3 separate regions of the Homo sapiens genome follow, and all the other regions are linked to region 1. The links come from fine-mapping of genetic effects on gene expression. A gene starts in region 1. Each other region holds a variant in brackets. All regions are shown on one strand. Distances are from middle to middle. Region 1 holds the start of NUP210L (nucleoporin 210 like). Region 2 overlaps CHTOP (chromatin target of PRMT1). Region 3 holds the start of LOC101928009 (a long non-coding RNA gene).

What was found. PIP is the estimated chance that this variant, and not a neighbour inherited with it, causes the effect.
Region 2: its variant is fine-mapped to the expression of NUP210L in whole blood (INTERVAL, PIP above 0.99).
Region 3: its variant is fine-mapped to the expression of NUP210L in minor salivary gland (GTEx, PIP 0.95).

Annotation. Positions count from the first base shown.
Region 1 is chr1:154,151,130-154,159,314 of GRCh38, forward strand. It overlaps NUP210L (nucleoporin 210 like), which reads right to left and starts at 3,944. Exons shown (of 40, transcript NM_207308.3): 1 at 3,713-3,944; 2 at 1,607-1,743. The coding sequence starts at 3,915. It also overlaps a transcript of TPM3 not described here. RefSeq lists enhancers at 3,277-3,777, 3,778-4,278 and a silencer at 4,885-5,062.
Region 2 is chr1:153,641,106-153,649,290 of GRCh38, forward strand. CHTOP (chromatin target of PRMT1) reads left to right here. Exons shown (of 6, transcript NM_015607.4): 4 at 1,141-1,324; 5 at 2,122-2,259; 6 at 3,959-5,201. The coding sequence ends at 4,164. Among named protein-coding and RNA genes, the nearest start is that of CHTOP, 11 kb to the left of the region's middle. The variant T/C (reference allele first, on the strand shown) is at 3,944.
Region 3 is chr1:153,166,440-153,174,624 of GRCh38, forward strand. It overlaps LOC101928009 (a long non-coding RNA gene), which reads left to right and starts at 8,079. Exons shown (of 3, transcript NR_110685.1): 1 at 8,079-8,185. It also overlaps a transcript of SPRR2G not described here. The variant A/G (reference allele first, on the strand shown) is at 3,410.

The DNA.
Region 1 (8,185 bases):
TAGTTAAAAATGATTACATTTTAAAAATCGCATATGTGACCAAATCAATGTTTTTTGTTTTTTCTGACTTTCGTATCCTTCTCTATCCTTTTTAGCTACCCTGCATGACATGGTCTTCAAAGATTCTTATGTTTGAGACTATCATACCATATTTCATTGATTCTTAGACACTCGTTTTTTATCTTTTAACATCTCTGCAATTGGGATTTATCTTATAATTGATGACATCTTACAAGTCCTCTCAGCCAGGCAGCAGTCAAGATATAGTTGTCACTGACTGCACATGTGAGAACATTAAGAGGGCCAGTAACAAAATTTGTAGAATAGGTGTTAGTAGTTGGAAAAAAATCTGGTGAAAAATAGCAGAGGACTCTTATTCCCTAGGAACCAAAAGGTTAAAGGGAGTGGGGGAAAAGTGATGACTCAGATGTACTAGGAAATTTTCCAAAGCTGGAAACAAAAATAGATTAGTTCTATCTAATTGCAAAGTCCACTTAAGAATAGGTTTTAGGTGGTTTTTAAAAATTCTTTTAATTTATTTATTATTATTGTTTTGTAGAGATGGAGTCTCACTGTGTTGCGCAGGCCAGGCAGGATGCAGTGAGCTACTGTCGTGCCATTGCACTACAACCTGTGCAACAAAGCAAGACCCTGTCTCTAAAAAAAGAGAAAATGCTGTCCGGGCACGGTGGCTCACACCTATAATCCCAGCACTTTGGGAGGCTGAGGCAGGTAGATCACCTGAGGTCGGGAGTTTGAGACCAGCCTGACCAACATGGAGAAACCCCCTTTCTACTAAAAATACAAAAATTAGCCAGGTGTGGTGGCAGTGCGCCTGTAATCCCAGCTACTCAAGAGGCTGAGCCAGGAGAATCGCTTGAACCTGGGAGACAGAGGTTACAGTGAGCCAAGATCACGCCACTGCACTCCAGCCTGGGCAACAAAAGCGAAACTCCGTCTCAAAAAAAAAAAAAAAAAGAAAGAAAGAAAGAAAAAATGAAAATCCTGCCTAATACTCTTCATTTTTATTTTATTTTATTTTATTTTATTTTGTTTTATTGAGATGGAGACTCCCTCTGTCGCCCCGCTGGAGTGCAGTGGCACAATCTTGGCTCACTGCAACCTGTGTCTCCCGGGTTCAAGCGATTCTCCTGCCTCAGCCTCCCTGAGTAGCTGGGACTACAGGTGTGCGCCACCACGCCCGGCTAATTTTTTTGTATTTTTAGTAGAGACGAGGTTTTACCATGTTGGCCAGGCTGGTCTCAAATTCCCCACCTCAGGTGATCCACCCACCTCGGCCTCCCAAAGTGGGGGGATTACAGGCGCGAGCCACCGCCCCCAGCCATAATTTTTTTTTTTTTTTTGTAGAGATAGGTCTCACTCTGTTACCCAGACTGTTCTTAAACTCCTGAGCTCAAGCAATCTTTCTGCCTCAGCCTCCCAAAGTGCTGGGATTAAAGGCGTGAGCCACTGCAGCCAGCTAGGAATCATTTATTCTCCCTTTGATCATTTGAAGCCAACACCATTTGTGTTAACTATCTATACAAAATACCAGATTATTCTACCCCAGAAGAAGTGATACATAGTGTTTTTGCTCTCAACATACCTATTTCTCGAGCAAGAATAATACTGCTGAGGCGTATCGGTTGCGTAGATTCAGCAATGAGTACAGCTTTTTGGGAACACAAGGTGCCATTTTCATATAAAGGCTCAACAGTAACTGCATCATGATGGGTGGAATGCCTGCCAGAACAAAATTCTTAAGAGTGTGAAATAGGTGGGTTAAAATTAACTTTTAGTGGAACATAGATTCTCACACTTCTTCCATGTTACATACTACCAGGTATATGTAAATGACACTTTTTAAAGAAGGAACATTGCTTAGGGATGCGATAATTAAACTGAGAGATTGATGAGAACTTTCCCAATGATCCCTTGAACAAAGTCCCAGAAATATCCCTCCCTCAATTTTTTTTAAAAGATTTTTATATTCTTCCCTCAGTATGCAGAAATACGACTGATGTGTTTCTAGTAATGAGAGGGGACTTTCTCATACTCTGAGGAAAGTTTCCTTCAATCCTAGAAACCAGGCTTCTGATATCTAGGATGGAAAAGGTGCCTAAATTATGAGGTGTGAGTCCAACTCAAAATACCAAAAACATTCATAAATATTTTTATTCTTATTTATTATTATGTTTTTGAGACCGAGTCACTTTGTTGCCCAAGCTGAAGTGCAGCAGGGCGATCTCAGCTCACTGCAACATTCGCCTCCAGGGTTCAAGCGATTCTCCTGCCTCAGCCTCTCGAGTAGCTGAGATTACAGGTGTCTGCCACTATGCCCGACTAATTTTTGTATTTTTAGTAGGGATGGGCTTTCATCATGTTGGCCAGGCTGGTCTTGAACTCCTGACTTCAAGTGATCTGCCTGCCCCGGCCTCCCAAAGTGCTGGGATTACAGGCGTGAGCCACTGCGCCCGGCCGAATGTTTTTATTTTAAATAGAGACGGGGTCTCACTATGTTGATCCGGCTGGTCTCAAACTCCTGGCCTCAAGTAATCCTCCTGCCTTGGCCTCCCAAAGTGCTGGGATTACAGGCGTGAGCCACCATGCCTGGCCTCATTAATATTTTTGGAGTGATAGAAGAAATGGCTTTCAATGCTGGAAAGATGCCTTGCATCACCCTCACGGTCAGGAAACACACACGTCACACTGGATCATCTTACAAGCTCACTTTCCTTATACTTCCTCATAAAATGAGAGGTGAATTTATACTCGGAACAAACCTCATTGCTTCTCCTAGGAGATGGCAAAGGGGTATCTACTCCATCTAGGATGAATGCACTGGCATCCTGAAGCTCACTTCGGTTAGGTTCTCTCATACCTTAGGCAACCACATAACCCATCATTGGGTCCTCTCACACCAGAAAATCATGTCTCTTCATCTTCAGTCAGGAAGTCATTATCCCGGAGTTGTGTGTACCCCCTGTCCTCACACTTCAAGCGGGTACCCTTTTATAAATGGGGCAATTTTGATAATACAGACAGATCTCATCTCCACCCACGATAAATCTTCTCATATTCCCAGAAGTTTACACTTCATAGTCTCTGGGCCTCACTTTCCTCGTCTGTGAAATGGGAGTAATAGTACTTACTTCATAAGACTGCAAAAAGCGAATGAGTTAACACATGTAAAGTGCTTAGTTAACCCCCAATACTTGGCTGTTGTGTTTTAAGTCCTTCTCACATTGAATAGCTCATCTATAGTTAGTGGGGACCCTCGCACCCCAAGTTTTCCTGTTCCTACAGAAATTTCCTCAGATATGGGGAACTTCCTCTTACTCTAGTTGTTTACATTGGAAGTCATCAGTACCTGTGGCCTCCAACACAGGGCTTCCCTTTACCCTGACGGCTGCTCATAGTGACCACCCCTTCCCAACACACACAGAGAAGAGGCCAGTCCCACATCCCGAGAATTCCTCACACGTCTGGAAGATTGTCACACAGCTGGAGGATATACCACATGAGTAGGACACGCCACACCCAAGGGTCTGCTCCTCGCCACCTTCACTGACACCACACTCTCCTCCCCTACCGGCTAGGCCCCTTCACGCGGCCCCACACGGTATTCCTGTGGGATCTTACAGAGGGAACCCCCCTCACCCTTACTGGATGGTAGTGAGGGTGCATATCCTTGTCACCCACCACCCCTCACCAAGTGTAGCAGCCCCGCTGGGCCTCCAGCAGGAAAGGCACCCGGCCTGGCTCTCGGCCGAAGGGTAGCAACACCTGTGGCACGTTAAGTTTGTTGGCCAGGGTCCCACGCAAAACCAGAAACAACAACAGGAGGCGGTGTAGACGCAAGAAGAAAAAGAGCCCGAAGCCTCGGCGTCTTGATGACGCCGGACAGCCAGTCATGGCGACTGCCAGGTCTCGGGTTCCCGCTCAACTACAGCCGGCTCACAGCTCCATCAGCCAATCCACAGGCGTGACGTCAGCAGAGGGGGATGGGACCTGCTTCTTGCTCGGATGTGTGGGCATTTTTAAATGCAGTCCTTCAGCAAGCCAATATAATGGAAACTTTTGGCACAAACCCAGCTAAAACACCTCAAACTCTCTTAAAGGGCTTTCCTAAATACTGGATGGCAGACCTTTTTAACAGTAAGGAACAAGCAGAAAAGTCTAAAAAAAACCCTTTAATTTCTTCCAGTTTTAATTTCTTCTGTTGCACACTGTTTATCTTAACACCACACCCTCCGCCCGACAAAAAAACTTTTTGCAATGATTTCCAGTTAGCATTGGTCCATGCCTATCAACGGAAAATTGTGCAGTCTCTGGGATAAACAGCTCGACTTTGTCAAGGGAACCGTGTATTTTTACTAGAAGTCAGATTCACGTCCGGCCTCCAGGCCAGAATGCAGGAAATGCCAGACACTGGCGTCTCAAAAGCAGCTTTCAAAGTTATCCACTCACACAGCCGGCCTCTAAGCAAATACTCTTGAGAGCACTTGTTGTTTTCTCCAAATATCCAAACAGAATATAAACTCAAAGCTGTTTCAGTACAGTTGGTTAAAACCACGCATTTATAGTAGTGATCAGCATTATATATTGTTTTAAGGAGCATAAATCCATAGTTTATAAGGATTGATATGGTTGTGAAGGAAAATGTATATAGTTCAGCCTGAGATGTCAGTGTTAACCTATAAAAGGCCCAGCACATTAAGTGTTCTTTCTAATCTTCATGTTTACTCTGACAATACTTATCTCCATTTTACAGATGATAAAACTAAACATTTGCTCTATATTAAATCCTGTTGCTCCAGCTGGGTGCGGTGGCTCACGCCCGTAATCCCAGCATTTTGGGAAGCTGAGGCAGGTGGATCACCTGAAGGTCAGGAGTTCGAGACCAGCCTGGCCAACATGGTGAAGCCCTGTCTCTACTTAAAATATAAAAAATTACCCGGGCATGGTGGCAGGTGCCTGTAATCCCAGCTACTCGGGAGGCTGAGGCAGGAGAATCTCTTGAACCAGGAGGCGGAGGTTGCAGTGAGCCGAGATCGAGCCATTACGCTCCAGCCCAGGCAACAAGAATGAAACTTCATCTCAAAAATAATAATAATAAAGAATAAATCCTGTTGCTACCACCCACAAAGATGCTATTTTTAACCCAAACCTCATAGCTTCTGTGGAGAAAGCACATTTAGTTTTAATAAATAAAAGTCAAATAGGTCTGAGGGTTGGAGGGACTGGTTCTTTATTTCAAAAAGACACTTGTCAATATTCAGTATCAAAACAGTTGCACTATTGATTTCTCTTTCTCCCAATCGGCCCCAAAGAGACCACATAAAAGGAGAGTACATTTTAAGCCAATAAGCTGCAGGATGTACACCTAACAGACCTCCTAGAAACCTTACCAGAAAATGGGGACTGGGTAGGGAAGGAAACTTAAAAGATCAACAAACTGCCAGCCCACGGACTGCAGAGGCTGTCACAGCCAGATGGGGTGGCCAGGGTGCCACAAACCCAAAGCAAAGTTTCAAAATAATATAAAATTTAAAAAGTTTTGTACATAAGCTATTCAAGATTTCTCCAGCACTGACTGATACAAAGCACAATTGAGATGGCACTTCTAGAGACAGCAGCTTCAAACCCAGAAAAGGGTAATGAGATGAGTTTCACATGGCTAAATCAGTGGCAAAAACACAGTCTTCTTTCTTTCTTTCTTTCAAGGAGGCAGGAAAGCAATTAAGTGGTCACCTCAACATAAGGGGGACATGATCCATTCTGTAAGCAGTTGTGAGGGGGTAGAGATGGGACAAAATTTTGGTCTCAGAGGTCTTACCATCTTAATTTGGTAACTTCTAATGAAAAAAATAAAAAATAGAAATAACATTATCCAAAGATATCTTAAAGCTGAAAACTTGAACAGCACATTTTTTGTTTTTGTTGTTGTTTGGCTAACTCCTCCTGGAATCACCTTTCTGGTTTAGCTAGTACTTTGTACAGAACAATGAGGTTTCCCACAGCGGAGTCTCCCTGGGCTCTGTTTGGCTCTCGGTAAGGCAGGCCTACACCTTTTCCTCTCCTCTATGGAGAGGGGAATATGCATTAAGGTGAAAAGTCACCTTCCAAAAGTGAGAAAGGGATTCGATTGCTGCTTCAGGACTGTGGAATTATTTGGAATGTTTTACAAATGGTTGCTACAAAACAACAAAAAAGGTAATTACAAAATGTGTACATCACAACATGCTTTTTAAAGACATTATGCATTGTGCTCACATTCCCTTAAATGTTGTTTCCAAAGGTGCTCAGCCTCTAGCCCAGCTGGATTCTCCGGGAAGAGGCAGAGACAGTTTGGCGAAAAAGACACAGGGAAGGAGGGGGTGGTGAAAGGAGAAAGCAGCCTTCCAGTTAAAGATCAGCCCTCAGTTAAAGGTCAGCTTCCCGCAGGCTGGCCTCAGGCGGAGTCTGGGTCAGAGGGAGGAGCAGCAGCAGGGTGGGACTGGGGCGTTCTACATCTCATTCAGGTCAAGCAGGGTCTGGTCCAGCATCCTTTGTGTACAGAGGTGCTCCTCTTTGGTGCATTTCAGTTTATCTAATGGGGGTAAAGGAGAGAAGTTACAAGAACTAGAAGTAAATTTCAAGGTCTACCCGCTCTTTGAGACTTGCTCCTGTTGCAGAGAAGCTGCAGACTGATAAAGCAGCTGCCTTCTCAGCCACAGAAGTGAGCTATTACATCACCCAGTTTTGTAGGGCCTTTGGCTTGCCTACTGAAGTTGTAGGTGTTGCTGCACTTCCTGGGTGAGGGAGTTAGGGCCCTTATCAGCCATTTCCTCTCCCTCCCACACCCAACCAACACTTTCAGCTTTCAGTCAATGAAAGAGCAAGCCTTAACCATCAGCCATCCACTTTTCTAGGTTTTGCCCACATAACAATACCCTCTTGAAATGGCTCACCGGAGTTTGAACATTGCAAACAATAGAAACATCAGAATCTCAGATTATAAAGAGCACAGGAAGATCCTCATGCACTACATGTTTTTTCGAAAAAGTAGAGGCCAAAGTAATAACTGATGGGATAAATAAAAGGGCGCTCACAGTTAAGTCAAATAATCTCTAAAGAAAACAAAGCCAAGAATACTACTGAAACAAGTAGTTGTAAGCAAACCTTGAGATTGCTGCAGAGCTATTGAACAGAACTAGCTTGTGACAGTTACTTGAAATTAACATAAAACCAGAAAAAGGACGCAAAAGTCAGAAAGAAAATCAGCAGCTGAACATTAAGGAGAATCTAATCTGTCTAGCAAGCAAACCACTCTGACTGCTCTAAAGAGGTGAGGAAAATACTCAAATCTTCAACTCAGAGAAGGTGATGGCAACACAGACCCATATTCATATCCCACAACTTTTCTTTCACTTCCCTTTTTTCCACCCAGTCAGAAGGACCCATTCCTGGGCCTGCCGATGAAGCAGTTACAACAACTTGTCAAGTCAGTCCTTTTATTGTTAAAAACATCCATGCAAGGGAACATATCCTACAGTCAGTGCCCAAGTGAAAGAGCAGCAAATAAGGGTGGAAAACAAAATTCTCGCAAGTTTTCTCACTATAATCTCTCAGGCCCCTCCCTTCTTCACCCATAATCTCTTCTAAAGGGACAGAAACTTCACAATGGTCAACTTCACAATGCTGTTAGGAAATCAACATTCTAACTGCCCCAATTAAAATGCAATTTGCTCAGGGCAAAATAATAACTTTTAAAAAGACAATCAGCTTTTTGTTGGGGTCCAGGTCAGTGGTGTGAGCAGTAAGCTCAGTTTAATGGGCATCATTGAGCCCTGCCCATCAGTCACACAGATCATGCAGCGTTAGCTTCAGCTCATTAGAAAGCAGGCGGTTTCGCTCAAGTTGGCTGTAGAGACGCTCTGCAGCAGCAACGGAGAGGAGGGGAACACAAGAGAAGGAGAGGAAAAAGAGGAGGAGAAAGAGAAAAAGGGAAAGTTAGTAGAGTACCAGAAGTAAATTATGAGTCTTTCAACTAGCTGGTATATATAACATGCATCTGTAAGGCAGGGTGGATGCAAGGAGGATTCAGATAGAGGGCAATAAGAGTCAGTCAGTTGGTGGAAAGACCAACAGAGGAAATTCAGACTGACAAGTTGGTAGGACAACATTTTGAGGGAGAAAAAAT
Region 2 (8,185 bases), 510 kb before region 1:
ATGTTTGGAGCCTTCCCCACTGATGAGAAGCAATTTATGATCTTGTGCTAGAAAGTTAATAATGCTTCACAGCATCTTTTTGAGAGGTTGATTAGAAAACACACACATACACGTTGGTAGTCACTTGTGGGTGAAGCCTGAAGGGGCTATACAATTTATTTTCTTTCAGATTGACTGATGGCTTTATGGACAGCCAGGCTTACTAGGAGCTTGGTTGTGTTCAGGGCTATTGCTGTCCCTTTTTCCTTTGAAGGAATTTAATTCTCTGAGATGTAGTCTTAATGGTTTTCTTTTGAGAACAGATTCTTAAAAATACCCTATCTCTGTAGTGTGTCCTTGTTCTTATATATGGCCCTGAGTTTTGTGATCACCTGAATAATTCTAACATACGTTTGGCTGGCTGACTGTGGAGATACATTTGAGTTACATGTTTATTTTTAATTTAAGGTCATCATTGTTTTAAAGGAGCTGTTTGCAAGTGCAGGCATGGAATTAGGGATTTTTAAGAAATGTAAGGAAAGGAGATTTGACTTTCTTGTGTTTATTTACATCTTAAGGTAAAAAGTGGACCGTCTGGAAATAGATTCTCAGAGGAAAAATGGAGCACACGGGCCTTTTTGAGAAATCAATCTTGTTCTTAAGTCACAAGAACTCAAGTGAACTTGTAATTTAAGTTTTGCCCAGAGTGTGATGAACTTCCTATGGTGTTTGAGTAAGCCTTTGAAGACAGTGGTAGTCCATGGGCAGGTATGAATCAAGTCATATAATTGTCAACCTGTAGTTCAAAAGCAGTACAATCCAGGATTGAACTATAGAATGTTCTTACGAAAACTTAAGTTTCAACTGGCAGTGTATGACTTCTGTAGCCAAACTAGTGAGGTAATTTGTGGAGATGCCCATTTCATGGGACCACACTTGAGCTTCTTGGAGTTTCTGCTCTGGATCAAAATTCTGCTGCTTGTATAACATGTTCTGAGGCAAAGGCTTGCTTCTGGTTTGGGATCCTTTTGACACCCACAACAGGTTTATCTCCCTTCACACCAGCATCTCACTTGCTTCTTTTTCTCTGCACTTTGAGTTGCCAAATCCTGTTGGATTGCTTTTTTGATCTCAATCCCCTAACACCTTTTCTTCCAGAAGAGCTTAAAGCAGCGCCTGGGTAAGAGTAACATCCAGGCACGGTTAGGCCGACCCATAGGGGCCCTGGCCAGGGGAGCAATCGGAGGACGAGGCCTACCCATAATCCAGAGAGGCTTGCCCAGAGGAGGACTACGTGGGGGACGTGCCACCAGAACCCTACTTAGGGGCGGGATGTCACTCCGAGGTCAGTGCTGTGTACCCTGATAATTGTCGGGCCCTACTCCCTTCCCTTTTCTCTTGGGCTGCTTATGGACACGTTTGTTTAACATCTTTAAGCCTGAATTTGTATTAATATAATAACTTCTGAAATCACATATTTTTAATAGTGCTGCATGTCTTTTATCAATACCATTCCTTTTCTGATAATGTGCAATGGTGAGAGGCTATGACCTGCGTAACAACAGGTAATTCATGTCATCTCCATTCCATTTTAAAACACCCTGCTGTTGCTTGAATCAAAGCACATTCAAGTTCTAGAAACAAGTCAAACATAAGAAATTTATAGGTCTTTTGGCCTATATCTCTTTGTTCCTGGTGCTAGTAAAACACTGATACAGCTGGAAAAAGAGGACAAGTTGACCCACAGCACTTACCTATATATGTTCATTTGGGGCACTATTACTCTGTTCCCTGTATAGTTCTTGTTCCCTAGAAGAATCTGTTGAGATCAGGAACCATAGCATTTATTTTTAAATTTACCATAATGCTAGGCATCTATCTGATTATTCAGTAGATATTTATTAAATGTATGTACTTACTAATTGAATTAACTCCCAACTTCCAAAAATGGATTTGTGGTCAGACTTGTTGAATTGATTGAATAAAGAGTAGCTTAATCTGTTCACAGTATGCAGCTTGCCCCAGCCAACCTAAAAACTAACTGAATTACCTTCATTTAACCCTCACCGCCTTCCTTTGGTTAGAATCTACTTTGTGTCTCTTGGATTTACCTGCATATACATTGTATGCCTCCTCTCTAAGGTCAAAACCTGCTCCGAGGTGGACGAGCCGTAGCTCCCCGAATGGGCTTAAGAAGAGGTGGTGTTCGAGGTCGTGGAGGTCCTGGGAGAGGGGGCCTAGGGCGTGGAGCTATGGGTCGTGGCGGAATCGGTGGTAGAGGTTAGTCAGCTACCAACTTCAGAGAGTAGCTCCCCCTTACTTTCCTCCCTTAAAAACTCAGAGCCACCTTTCTGCACAGCTTCAAGTCATAGGCAGGCTTCTTTGTTTGTCTTGTTTTGTTATTTGAAACTGGCTTATTTTTCAAATTACCATGCTGGTAGTGCAAAAGTCTCATGATTTTTCCAAGAATCAATCAAGTGCATATTATAGAGCCAGATTATATGCCATCTTCCTCCAAGCTCTTGCAAATTTAAATTGTATAGTTGAAAATACCCCCCAAAATGGTCAGTTTAGGGTTTTGCCTTTCTCTGCCCCTGTCCCACCACCATCACCACCACATACCACCCTGTAGCTCCAAATCCTGGTTTGAGTCACATGAGAATATAGAAGAGAGAGAGAGATACAAAGATGAAGTAGAGTTAAGAGGGTGGTGAGACTTGGAGCTGGGCATTGGCTCTGAAACCAAATAAATTCAATGTCACATTTGGTGCCTGTGGAGAACCAGAGATGACTTTTTTTGCTTAAGGTAGAGAGCAAGATGGAATTATTATCAGTTAACTAACTGGCTCTTATTGATAATCTTGCCTTTGAAATTTATTGATGTTTGTCTTGTGACCTCATGACCCAGATTGGGAAAGAGTTTAATGATGTTGCTGCTGTTAATACTAAATCTCATGGGAGCCTTCTGGTTTAGAGCTTAGTGGAAAACTCCCAACACCTGTCCAGAAAAAAAACACTATTGAAGCCCCTGTGTATATTTGCTTTGGTTCTCTTAAAAGGTGTCTTGGGTCTTCCATAACTTATGACCTTGAAGTTGCCAAGGAATAATAACTGTTAGGAAAGAAAAGTTGATAACCAAGGGCTTGTTTTCTTCTCTCCCATTATATGATACTTACTGAGTGAAGTGCAAGCTAGTTTGGGTTTCAGGATGAAATAACATGTTTCCAAATTATCTTGACTTGGATCCTGAGAGACATCACGAGGGTGGGAGAGACTAAAATAGCTTTTCAAAAAGCTGAGTTTGTTTTGTTAACTGAATTCACACTGCTTCTCAGATAACCACAATTGTCAGTTGTCATAAGGTAACTAGAATTAAAGGTAGAAATAGCTAGGACAACTCAAAATATTTTTTCAAATCTCCCCTACATTGTTCCTGTGTCAGAAAAACTCAGTCTCCTGACACATGAGGTCAGCTAGCTCATTAGACTTGATAAGTTTAAGGACAGGTGAGATGACTTTCCAGAAGGGTCTCCAATAAACTTAATTTGAAAACTGTCTTGTCTTCACACCCCTGATGCTCTGTGCTCTTGTTACCACCTCCCTATCTTACCAAATGGGGTTATCTGTCATGTATTTTAATTATGAACTTAGTGAATCTCAAATGTTAGGTAATTTTATCTTAGGATTGATTAAGGTTTTTTAAAATTATAGTTGCCAGTTAATTATTTTCCTTTATTGATAGAATAAAATTTGTTAAAATAGCATTTAGAGATGATCATGTGATAGAGGATTCATTATGTGTGCTTTCCATGTGTTGCTTTCTACCCATTGTGTTTCCTTTTTTTCCAGATTTCTCCTCTTTGCCCTGCCCTTCAGCTTTTCTCAGCTAGGCCCCACTGCTCTAAGGGGCATTTACTACAGCACCTATTAAACTTACTTGTAACTGTCTCTTTTTTTTTTTTTT[T/C]CCCCTTTGGGCCAGGTCGGGGTATGATAGGTCGGGGAAGAGGGGGCTTTGGAGGCCGAGGCCGAGGCCGTGGACGAGGGAGAGGTGCCCTTGCTCGCCCTGTATTGACCAAGGAGCAGCTGGACAACCAATTGGATGCATATATGTCGAAAACAAAAGGACACCTGGATGCTGAGTTGGATGCCTACATGGCGCAGACAGATCCCGAAACCAATGATTGAAGCCTGCCCATCCTCCCATGAGAGACTCTTGTTAGTCAACACATCTGTAAATAACCTTGAGATAACAGATGAGAAGAAATCTGATTGATGCTGGATGGACCTATCACAATAGGCTGTGGACTTACTTGCCACCAGCTTGTGCATTTAGTGTGTTCCTTTTACTTTTTGATACTGTGTTGTATGAAACCCTTTTGTCCTTTGATTTGGTTTTTTGTTTTTGTTTTTTTAGGGGGGAGGGGGGGTTTCCCCTCCTTTGCCCAGACTTCTCTTTGAACACAAATGCATTAGCCTTGTGGCTAGAACACCCTCTTCCTACCTCTGTCTCCCCTCACTTGTCATATGCTCTGACATGCTAACATTTCTTTTGTTCATCCCTGTTGCCCCCACAGAAACATCCCAGAAAAACCGGTCAGTGTTCCTTCCTCCCTGATCCTTAGGTTTCTGAAATAGGGTTCTGTTACATCCTCTTCGATAGCCTGTTTAAAATGTTTAGAAGGTCTGGAGCTCAAAAATGCGTTCTTCCACATTGATAATTTAGTAAACTGAGAACATTGACATCACTACAGGGCAGCATAAGAGGTTGCTTACATGTGGTAGCAGCTCTGGTTTGATTCAAGTTGCTACCATGTACATTGACAGCACATATACCATAACCAGCGTGTTGGGTTGAATTGCACTTTCTACCTTTGTATGAGATTTACAGACTTTCCTTCTGGGTTTGTATCATGACCAGAGGGGTACTATAGGGTTGGTTTATACTGCAATATAGAGGATCAGAAGCCATTTGATTTGGTAGGTGTGTCAGAAGGGAGAATGATGGCAGACGAACTGCTGGAAGAGGTCAGAAGATAGCCATGCTAAAATGCAATTATATCCTCATGTTTATCCCAAACTAATCTTGGACTTTTCCACTCATTAGCTTTGTTTTGCCCTTGTTTCCCTTGAAGGTTTAAGTTCAACCATATTCTGTCAACTGTTCAGTTTCAGTGGAATCTTGTATTTCTGGTTCATTATAACAAACTGTTCGCTTAAATCCACCCAGGACTCTCTTTATTTGAGGTGCCTCAAAATGCCATGGCTACTTTAATGATGTTTTTTTTTTTTTTTCTTGTGACCGAGTCTCGCTCCTGTCACCAGGCTGGAGTGCAGTGGCGCGATCTTGGCTCTGCAACCTCCAACTCTCTGGTTCAAGCGATTCTCCTGCCTCAGCCTCCCGGGTGGCTGTGACTACAGACATGTGCCACCACACCCAGCTAATTTTTGTATTTTTAGTAGAGATGGGGTTTCACCATGTTGGCCAGGATGGTCTTGATCTCTTGACTTGGTGATCCACCCGCTTCAGCCTCCCAAAATGCAGGGATTACAGGCGTGACCCACTTTCAGCCTCCCAAAGTGCAGGGATTACAGGCGTGACCCACTGCACCCAGCCACTTTAATGATGTCTTGATATACCCCTTGTATGGTTGAGAGTTTCTTTCTTCTTACTTGTGTTAAAATTCTGGAGAGCCTGTGGCTTTGAGCAGAAAGTGAAGAATTTGACTTCCTCTGAGCTCTGCAGAAATAACACCACGCCCACAAAAACTCAAGGAAGATTGTCTTGGGCAACATTCTGGGCCCTTGGGCCCTGGCACATATTTCCCTTTTTCCCTATGTTGAGAGCTGAAGAGAAAAGAACCTAGTAGCGCCCAGCCAAGCCAGTTGTCATTGGGCTGCCTTTCACCCTAAACTGCCAGGAGGTTGTACTTACTGGGGGCTGGGAAGGAAATTTTGGTCAGGACAACCCAAACTTGAATCCTGTGATGTGGGGTGTCTGTAGGTCCCAAGGGAGATGGGCAGTGGGGGTCTAGCAGAAGGCTACAGGTTGGACGGTGACTGCAGAACTGAATCCCCAGTTCAGCTCCTTCTGCCTTTTCCAGTGCTAAAGCATGAGGACTTCCCCTCCCAGCCAACCTCCCCAACAACCCAAACAAGTGCAAAATGCCAGGCTCCCTCCTACCCCAGAGGAGACTGATGCTTAAGAGTTCTCTATAAAGGAGGTGACTGCCGTAGCCTAGGCTTCCTTCCTTCTACCTCCATGTCCTTCCTACTTCATTGAAAGAATTTATCCCCAAATCGCTTATGTGGGGCACAGGGAACTCTCCTATCAGCCAAGGGTCCTCCAGCCCCACCTACTGCTCACTACAGTTCCCAGGGTCTCCTGAGGCCTGTGTCCCTGTCATCCTCAGTCACTGGTCGTGTGGGACAAGGTGAGTAAACCTGACCTCCTCTGGGTCAGCCTTTCATTCAGCTGCCATGTGCTGAGGGCTTGCCATACCAACACAAGGCATCCTTTGTAAGGGTAACATTAGGAGCATAGGGAAGAGGTTGATGAGCTGGATCTTTTAAGACAAGGGAAAGTAGAGAAAATACACCAAGCAGAGGGAACCAAGTGTAAAGGTACAGTGCTAAAAGAACACCTGAGGCTGGGCACAGTGGCTTACGCCTGTAATCCCAGCACTTTGGGAGGCCGAGGCGGGTAGATCACCTGAGGTCGGGAGTTTGAGACCAGCCTGACCAACATGGAGAAACCCCGTATCTACTAAAAATATGAAATAAGCTGGGCGTGGTGGCACATGCCTGTAATCCCAGCTACTCGGGAGGCTGAGACAGAAGAATCACTTGAACCCGGGAGGCGGAGGTTGCAGTGAGCCGAGATGGCGCCATTGCACTCCAGCCTGGGCAACAAGAGTGAAACTCCATCTCGAAAAAAAAAAGGTGGTCCTGCTGCTATGAATAGATAGCTCCATGGACCCAGCAGGGGTTAGGGTAGAGGCTCCCACTTATGCCTCGGTGGGCTCTCCCACCTGCGTCACACCCTGGCTAGTGACCCAGTCAGACGTGCTGGGGACCCTGGCTGACCACCTGTACCAGGGGCAAGGAAGGAAGGAGAGGGGAGCATTGTGAAGCAGGGCAGGATGACTCTTGAAGGTGGAGACAGGCCCTGGACAGCTCTGGGACCCTTAATGGTGGCAGCAGCCCCCAGTCATAGGCCTCATTGTGTGGGCAGCCTGGGACAGCTAAGATCCCCATGAGGTCTCTTTAAAGGATTCACTAAATGCTCCATTTAGTCTTGGTTTGTTTTTTTGTTTTGTTTTGTTTTTTGAGATGGAGTCTCGCTCTGTTGCCTGGCTGGAATGCAGTGGTGCAATCTTGGCTCACTGAAAACTCCAACTCCCTGGTTCAAGCAATTCTGCCTCAGCCTCCTGAGTAGCTGGGATTACAGGCATGCGCCACCACACCCAGCTAATTTTTGTATTTTTAGTAGAGACGAGGTTTCACCATGTTGGCTAGGATGGTATCGATCTCCTGACCTCGTGATCCATCTGCTTCGGCCTCCCAAAGTGCCGGGATTACAGGCGTGAGCCACCACGCCTGGCGATTTTGTTTCTTACCCTTTAGTGTAAGGTGATTATCAGCTGAAGATTTAAACACATCCATGAGGAGATGGGGGAAGGGGTTCCTTCAGAAAGTCCTAAAGCTTTCCTCTGGAATTTTTTTTTTTTTTTTGGAACAGAGTTTCACTCTTATTCCCCAGGCTGGAGTGCAATGGCACGATCTGGGCTCACCACAACCTCCACCTCCCAGGTTCAAGGGATTCTTCTGCCTCAGCCTCCCGAGTAGCTGGGATTACAGGCATGCACCACCACGCCCGGCTAATTTTGTATTTTTAGTAGTGATAGGGTTTCTCCATGTTGGTCAGGCTCGTCTCGAACTCCTGACCTCAGGTGATCTGCTCGCCTCGGCCTCCCAAAGTGCTGGGATTACAGGCATGAGCCACCGCACCCAGCATCCCCTTTGGATTTTAATTCAAAGCACATACTCTCAGGAGTTTAATTTCAAGAGGAAAGCCAGTTCAGACAACAGAGAAGAGAAAGGAGGTGGGGGAAAGGTAGACGGGAAAGATAAAAGAAGAAAGGCCCCTAATGTTTTCCTCAGCACTGCCAAGGCAGGACCTCACCCTCAGCCTCTGACCCCTTTGTGA
Region 3 (8,185 bases), 980 kb before region 1:
CTACAAGCCTTTTTGTTGTTGTTGTTGTTGTTCTCTTGGTCCCAAGGAAGTGTTCCTAATATCAGCAGCAACAAAAAAATTACTACCCCTTCTTCTCTCTTCCTTGATACCTAAGCTCTGATGCTGCACCCTCAAATAAGCAGAATTGGGCCTCTGGACAGCAGAGGACCACCCAACCAGGTAGAAGCAACACATTTCACAGTCTCCAGATCATGGGGATGAAGATCTCCAAGAATAGATATGTCATTTCATTCATCACTCACTCCCATATTAGCCCACATTATCAAGATCTGGAAGACCAAAGATGGATTTTGAATCTAAGAAAAGAACAGTCCTACTCAAAACTCTCTTGGGACAACTGATACCATCCACACAGAGACAGAAAATATCTTGATGTGCTTGGCACTTTAGGAAGTTGAGTATCACAGAATTTGAGGGCAGTTAAAAGAACTGTAAAAATCCACTTGATCTCTTCATAAAAGTGTTTAGGAAAAAAAAATCCACTTGAAAATTGACAAAGGTCTATAAAGGGAACATAAGTTGGAATGGAGAAGAGGGGCCGAGATCCAGAACCATGGCATAATCAGAATGGACCCTGATGCAATCTACTTTGATTCCACCACCACCATCACAGAAGGCTCAAAATATATATGAGATATTTGGATCCTAATAACCTTGGCATGCCATACTGCAGTTAATGATCTGAAGAAATAAATAAGAGACCCTTTGTTTTGGAAAAAAAATAAAATCTCTGGCCAGGCGTGGTGGCTCATGCCTGTAATCCCAGCATTTTGGGAGGCCAAGGCAGGCGGATCACCTGAGGTCAGGAGTTCTCAACCAGCCTGACCAACATGGAGAAATCCCATCTCTACTAAAAATACAAAATTAGCCAGGCGTGGTGGCTCATGCCTGTAATCCCAGCTACTCGGGAGGCTGAAGCAGGAGAATCGCTTGAACCTGGGAGGCAGAGGCTGTGGTGAGCCAAGATCACTCCATTGCACCCAGTCTGGGCAACAAGATTGAAACTCTGTCTCAAAAAAAAACAAAAAAGAAAAAGAAAAAGAAATCTCTAAACTAGGTAGGGTAAATTTGGCAATTACAGTAAGTTATTTTGATATGTTTACTGTATTGGTACCATATAAATTTGTTTTACATCTGTTTAATGATTAGAGATTAGGAAGGTGGAACTTAACTATTACTCTGCTAGATGCTGAATGTACAATGGAGGATAACTCAGAAAACATTTAAGTTCTCTGACCTTATCTTCTTATAGAAGATATAAGCCAAAATATGTAAACTTACAAGTAAATAATTTTAAATGATAATAAAGGTTTTTGGATCTTACCTGCTTCATTGTCATTTGGACCAAAAGTCATGTTTGCCCTCCACCACAATAATATAGTAATGTTTTTAAGAAGATTCAACAAAAAATACATTTTATTTAATCATGTAATACTTGCTAATAATATGGCAATTATCTTAATACATTAGCCTAATATTTGCTACCCCATGTCTTATAAAATATTAGAACCTGAGTATAAATGGTTCCATGATCCCATGAGCAGGAGAAATGCCATATTCTAAATCACCTTCTTGGTGCTCTGAGTAGTGTCTCCATCAAAGAAGAATCTGTTTTACTTTAACATCTCAAAAATAATATCACTAGGAGAGAAGAATGCTTTATATAACATAGTTATCAACACCAACCAAAAAGAATAGACTCTTCCACCAACTGTTGAAGCACCATCAGTTCTGGAAACACTCAGTTCCATAGAAGAACCTCCTAGACCAAAGGCTCAATGCAATGCCCATAGCTTTATCTATTTTCAACAAGCAGTCTGGGAATTGGTCTCTCAAAGTTCCACTTCAGTTGTGTCTTGATAGAACTTTCACTGAATCTTACATCACATAGAAGTATATCAGGAGCTCAACTCAGCACAGAGCTTCAGTTTTACAGCAAGAAAGACATGCATGTGAATGCCACAGAAATTGATTTCCCTCACAGTCTCATTAATTCTGTACCTATATTTTGGCATTTATAACAATCTGGTTTTGACTGTTATTATTTTTATCATAATAGCAGAATCATAATAGTTGCCAATTATTAAGTGCTTATTATCTGCTTGGGACATTACTAGATGCTATTTTATATTATCCGAAATTCTTAAATTTCAAAGAAGTTTTGAAGGAATTACATAAGCATATGAATGATCCTATGGAAAGGCATTGATACATTCTTAGAACTATTGAAGAGAACATAAAAGTATGCTAAAATACCCCCAGCAATGAAAAATCCAAATAAGTACCAAACGAAATCAGATAAAACCTGAGAAGGAAGATGCAGATTTGGACAACAGGGAATTCTTGGTCAATGTGCAATTTGAATCAGAAGAGCATAGGCTATGAGAGCACCCTATCTGGATGCCAATCCCAACTGTCATCTTGACTGTGTACTCATGAGTGTATGTGTGTGTGTGTGTGTGTGTGTGTGTAAGATGTAAAATTTGGCATGTTAGATCATCAAATAAATCAGCCTTGAGAAACAAAAATAAAATCCTAAGCCTCCCAACTGACTAAGTGGACCCGCTCTTGGCCAAGGGGGCCCCAGAGAAACCTCAAAACTGAGTTCCTAGCATTACAGAATGAGAGGTTGGAAGTGCCTTGTTATACTCCCTCCCTCACTAACCACCTTTAGGCTTTCTTCCCTCAGGGTTAAACAGAAACCAGCCCTTTTGAAAGACTTGCTCTCCAATGATTTCAACCAACCTTGTGACTACTCCTCCCTTTTGCCTTTGAACACAACAGTAGACCGACGTTCCTTCCTGATAAAAGGCCACCTACCAGCCGGGGTCGCGGTGGCTCATGCCAGTAATCCCAGCATTTTGAGAGGCTGAGGTGGGTGGATCACGAGGTCAGGAGATCAAGATCATCTTGGCCAACATGGTGAAATCCCATCTCTACTAAAAATACAAAAAAATTAGTTGGGCATGGTGGTGCACACCTGTAGTCCCAGCCACTCGGGAGACTGAGGCAAGAGAATTGCTTGAACCCGGGAGGCAGAGGTTGCAGTGTGCTGAGATCATGCCACTGCACTCCAGTCTGGCAACAGACCCAGACTCCATCTCAAAAAAAAAAAAAGCCACCAACCACAAAGTGGTTCTGGCCAGTCAACAGAGGATGCACAGTGATGACTTTCATGTCCTCCACTTCACCTTTTAATGTCAGAAGGCTGAAAACTTCAGCCTTCCATCATGTTAACACTGCCATTTTTTGAACAACCCAGGGCATGAAGCTCAATTGTGTATGTGCACATTTCTCCTTTCACAAATATTCATGACTCCTCCTATAGCTTATTCAACATGTATATTCAGCCACGCCATTCAGCATAAATTCCTGCCTTATTCTTCTC[A/G]CCCTCCAAATATCTGTATTTCTGGCTTCTGGCTGGAGACTGTGTTTCCAAGTATGTCAGAATGGCTGCCTTGCAGACTGAACCGCTTTATGGAAAGAAAGCTCTCCTTTCCAAATATATGAATTTCATCATTCTTCAGTTCACAGTCTTACAGTTTATATTAACTAATATAACTAATTAATTTATTTAGACATGATTTTAAGTTACAAAGTGTAATGGAATTTGGTTAGGTTTCTAAACAGCATTGAAATGCTTAAGAAAACATAAGAATCAAAAGATGTATAAATTTTCTTCGAGTATGTATTTGGAATTGTATTAGTCAGTGGGAGACTTAAAGTACTCTAAAATTGAGGATATCAACTTGGTAACCTCAGTTTAAGTTGTTAAGAGAGTTTAACCGAAGTTGTTAACTGGATCAATTATTACTCCAAAGCTCCTTGAAAAAATTACACAAATTTCTAGAATTTTAATTAAATTAATAACATTAGTTATCTAACTTATGGCTCACAAAAAGCTGTATAATTGGTAACTTTAATAAAGTAAATATAAATTTTGTAAACCAAAGTGTGCCTTAAATCATCTTTGTGATACACAAAAGCCAACTTCAAGGACACAAAAACAGCGTATGGCAATGAAAAATGAACAGAAAACAAAAGCTTTATGAGTTGCAAAGAGCAGGCAGAAAAGGTAGACCTGGGTTTAGGAATCAACTCCAGAAGACTACTGGGCAAGAGGACAAGAGAGAGGAAAGGAGGGAAGAAGAAAAGGTGGAAGAAGGGCTTGATAGAGAGATAAGAGAGGTATTCCATGGCTTCAAAAGAAAATACTTTTGATTTTAAAAATTAACCAGCATATGGTAAATCAGCTCAGGATCCCACAGACCCACATACCAGGCCCCTCACTTGCTTTTCTCCCACTCAAAGGTCCTACCTCCCTGCACCTCCCCACGGCTGCCCACCACCCTCTGAGAGCCACCTCTGCATATGGTGATTCAGGCCAGGACCCCACAAATCCACCTAAGTAAATCAGCACTGGCTGGTCAGTGACTCAGAGAGGTGGCCAACAAGTGAGGAAGAACAGGGTATCATGGGCAACTGACACAGAAATTCTCAAAGACCTAGAAGATCCAGGATCCACGATCAGCTCATTCCACCCTCTTTGGCCTTGGCAGTGACATCACATGGGAGGGTCAATCCTCCCTCTTTTCACGGAAGAGTACTTTGCTTGGCAAGGCTGTTCTTGTCACTAGTGTTTATTTGTTCACACCTGCCTTAAATGCCAGTATGACTGAAATGTTGAAACTCTCTCATCTTCATTGGTTTAGCCTAAATTTTCCCAGGCAATTAGTTTCTCTGAATATGAGCAGGTAAACACCCTTCCTTCCTCCACCCTTTTCCCGGCCGTCCTGGGACTACTTGAAACACAGGTGTGTCTTACCACACACAAACACTAAAACTCAAAAAGAGAGTAAATAACAATTACAGCTACTATTGAGCTAATGGATTGCATATAAACATTCAAGATTCTTGGACTACAGGAGCCTTTACACCCACTCGCCTCCCCAGGAATGCTTCCCTGTATTCATTCATCAGACTGACATTTGAGAATTTGGGTTATACGGACTTGTGTGATCACACCATATACCCTTTCAGTACCTGAATCTCCACTGCACATGCCACCGCTTTTCCTCCACCCAGCCTACCACCACTCACCACTACGGACATTTCTTCAGCAGATAATTGCTCACTTTTTCCACTGGCTAGGGCTTGGGTATCATGCACCAAAATGCTGAAAGTTGACTGGAAACCCTGTGTATTCATCTCTGGTGAACAGCCACCTCTCAACTTCACAGCTGCCAACAGATGGTGGTCCCATCTCCCTGGCACAGATAGTGAAGTCTCTTTTTTTGCCCAGGTATGGTTCCATAAGCACAGTTTTCCCTACCAAATAATACAACAAAGCAAACACATCAACCAGTGAAATTAGTGGATGTCTAACATTACCCAAAGACCACAATTCCCCTCTTGAGCTCTGCCCAATGCTTCTGCCCTCCCCTCCCATGCCCCCCGAATCCCCAGCCCTGTACTCCAGCTATCAGTATCTACGTCTGTCCTTTGGCCATGTACTAAGGACTTGTTCAGACCTTCTTCTTTGGTTTACCAATTTCCTTTTACACTCAACTTTAATCCTCCATTGAAATTGGAGCGACCTACAGCTTCAGGTATCCAGCATCCTCCTGAATACATGAGACAAGTGACAGTCAAGCCATGTCCCATGAGAGGACCAGGAATTGGCTTCCACTCTACTTCACCTCTCACCTTCCAGGGTCTATCAACACTCCCTGACTGAAAAAACTATCCTTAAATTATAACTCTCATGCTCAGAAGACCAGGTCTACTTCTCCAGACTGTCCCATTTAGTTTTTTCTAATGAACCTTTTTATCTATCAATTCCACAGAGTTCTTTCCTGGTGGCACCTATCACAATACGTGGTCTGGTCTCATGCGGTTGACTTTTGCTGTAGCATTACAACATAAGTTCAAGTCTTCTATCACTAACCTACCACCTACCAGTCCTTGCACACATCCTTCCCCCACTCAAGAGTCCTGCCCCCAATGCACCTCATTGCACCTTTCCTTTGGCTGCCCCCACAGAGACCCCAGAGATACTGTGGGAAAGGGCTTCTGTGTCCTCTTTCTCCCAGGCTACCCTTCCTCAGGAGATGGAAACCTTGCTAGTCACTCAATACCTGCAAAACTGGAGTTTCCGGTACAAAAAAAGAGTTAGACACATCACATTAGTAACTGGAATGAGGCACCCAAAAAACGGAAAACTGGGGCAAACCCTTTTGTTTTCCAAAAGTTTGACTGTGCTTGGGATCAAAGGTACAAGATTACTTTTTATGCCACCTTAATCCTCTGAAGCAGGAAGTTGAAGAAGAGACAGCTACTGGGATTATCCCTAAAAGGAGAGAAGAGTTCCATTAGGGCTTGGGCTAGCCTTCATCTGGGCCGGAAGAAGATTGTATGGTTGGACTGACAGTGACCACTTTTTTCAAGGTGGGGTTTTAAAGAATTAGGATAGTTAAGTGCATAAATAGACAGGCGGACAAACATAATATAATTCTAGAATTAACTTTGGAACTCTTACAAGTCTTCAATATTAGAGATGAAGAAATAAAGTCATGGAGATACTGAGGAACTTCACTCAGACAGCACAGCTGGTTAATGTCAGTAAAGCTAGCATCCACATGTTCACATCCTATCTCACGTTCTTTCTACAACCCCAAGAGGGCTTACTTCACTTAAATTGAAGTCAAATCCCAGCTATTCAGAAACCACAAAGAACAGTCTTCAAATGAGGACACAGACCTGAGAATTTGAGTGAAGGCCTTGGGACAGAACATGGCTAACACTTCCAGAACCCCCAGGCTTGTGATATTCGATTACTCCCTGGCTGCTCTTTCAGAGCCTGTGGTTTGGACAATAAGAAAGAGTGAAGTTGTCCTACAGACAGAGGGAAATAAATATGGAGGTTGTCCTACAGAGAGAGGGAAATAAATAGAGGGAAATGATGGAGGCTCTAAAGGGAAGTCAAACAGAAAAAAAAATCTCAGATAAGAAAAGGAATCATGGGATCAGAAGCACATATTGAATGGAAATCTGCTCTAAAATACCTCCTGATGGTCTTTCAGCCTCTGCTTGAAGTCTGTCCACAATAGAGTGCTCTGTACAAGGGAGGCAACCAGATTTATTATTAATGAACTTACTTAGAAACTATTTCCTTGGTTGGACTGAAATGTGCTTCCCAGTGACTTCTGTTACTTTAGGAGAATTTTGCTCTGAACTACAGAGCGGTTCCCTCCTTGTCACTGGAGGTGTCAGAGCAGAGGCTAGAAGTCCTGAGTCAGTGATGCTCCAGGGAGTTCCTTCCATGGGGTTGGAGGTGGCAAGACTCAAGTCTCTCACTGGCTTCAAGAATCATTTATGCCTTGGTTCTTCCCCACCTAGGCCACTCTTCCACCTGCTCATGGACTCCTCGGGAAATTTTACAGATTCTTTCACACCATAAAGGATGGGGCAGGAAAGATTCACTCAGTAATTCAGAGGCATTCACATTTTTTACTTTGTTATAGTTTAATTTTTAGCAGATGGGCTCAGAAATTCATCTATGAGAAGGCCCTATGAAAGAGTCTATTTGAAATGTTATAGGGACATACATTTCTCTTATATGTTGACAAATGTTTGGCATAACCCATATGTAAGCCAACTATGAACAAAAGCTTTGATCAGACCTATTTCTTCCTCTTTGGTCACTCTTCCAAGAACTCCAATTTCATGATGTTGCTTTAGTAGAATTTAAAGAGCAGGCTAATACTGTGTAATTAATAGCATTTAGTTTTGTACCATCTCAGGATATTAATTACAAACAACAAAAGCTCACTCTGACTGATTAAACAGAAAAAGGGTTTATTAAAATATTATTGGGTAGATTATAGAACTCTTGGAAAAGCCGCAGAACCAGGCTTGAGGCTAAGCATATAGGGGAAATGTCCAAAAACCACACCACAAAACTAGCCTGGTGAGGAAGTTCTACTGCCACAGCGACTGCTCCACCATTGCTACATCATGCCAGGAACACATCTTTGCCTCCTCAGCCAGCCGCAAAAGGGAGCCACCACCCCTGCCAGCAAAATGTCTTCTGCAAGGAGACCCTCTTCCAATTGTTCCTTTCCAGAGCATAGCTCTGACTGGTAGAGCCTCCGTCACAGTGCGC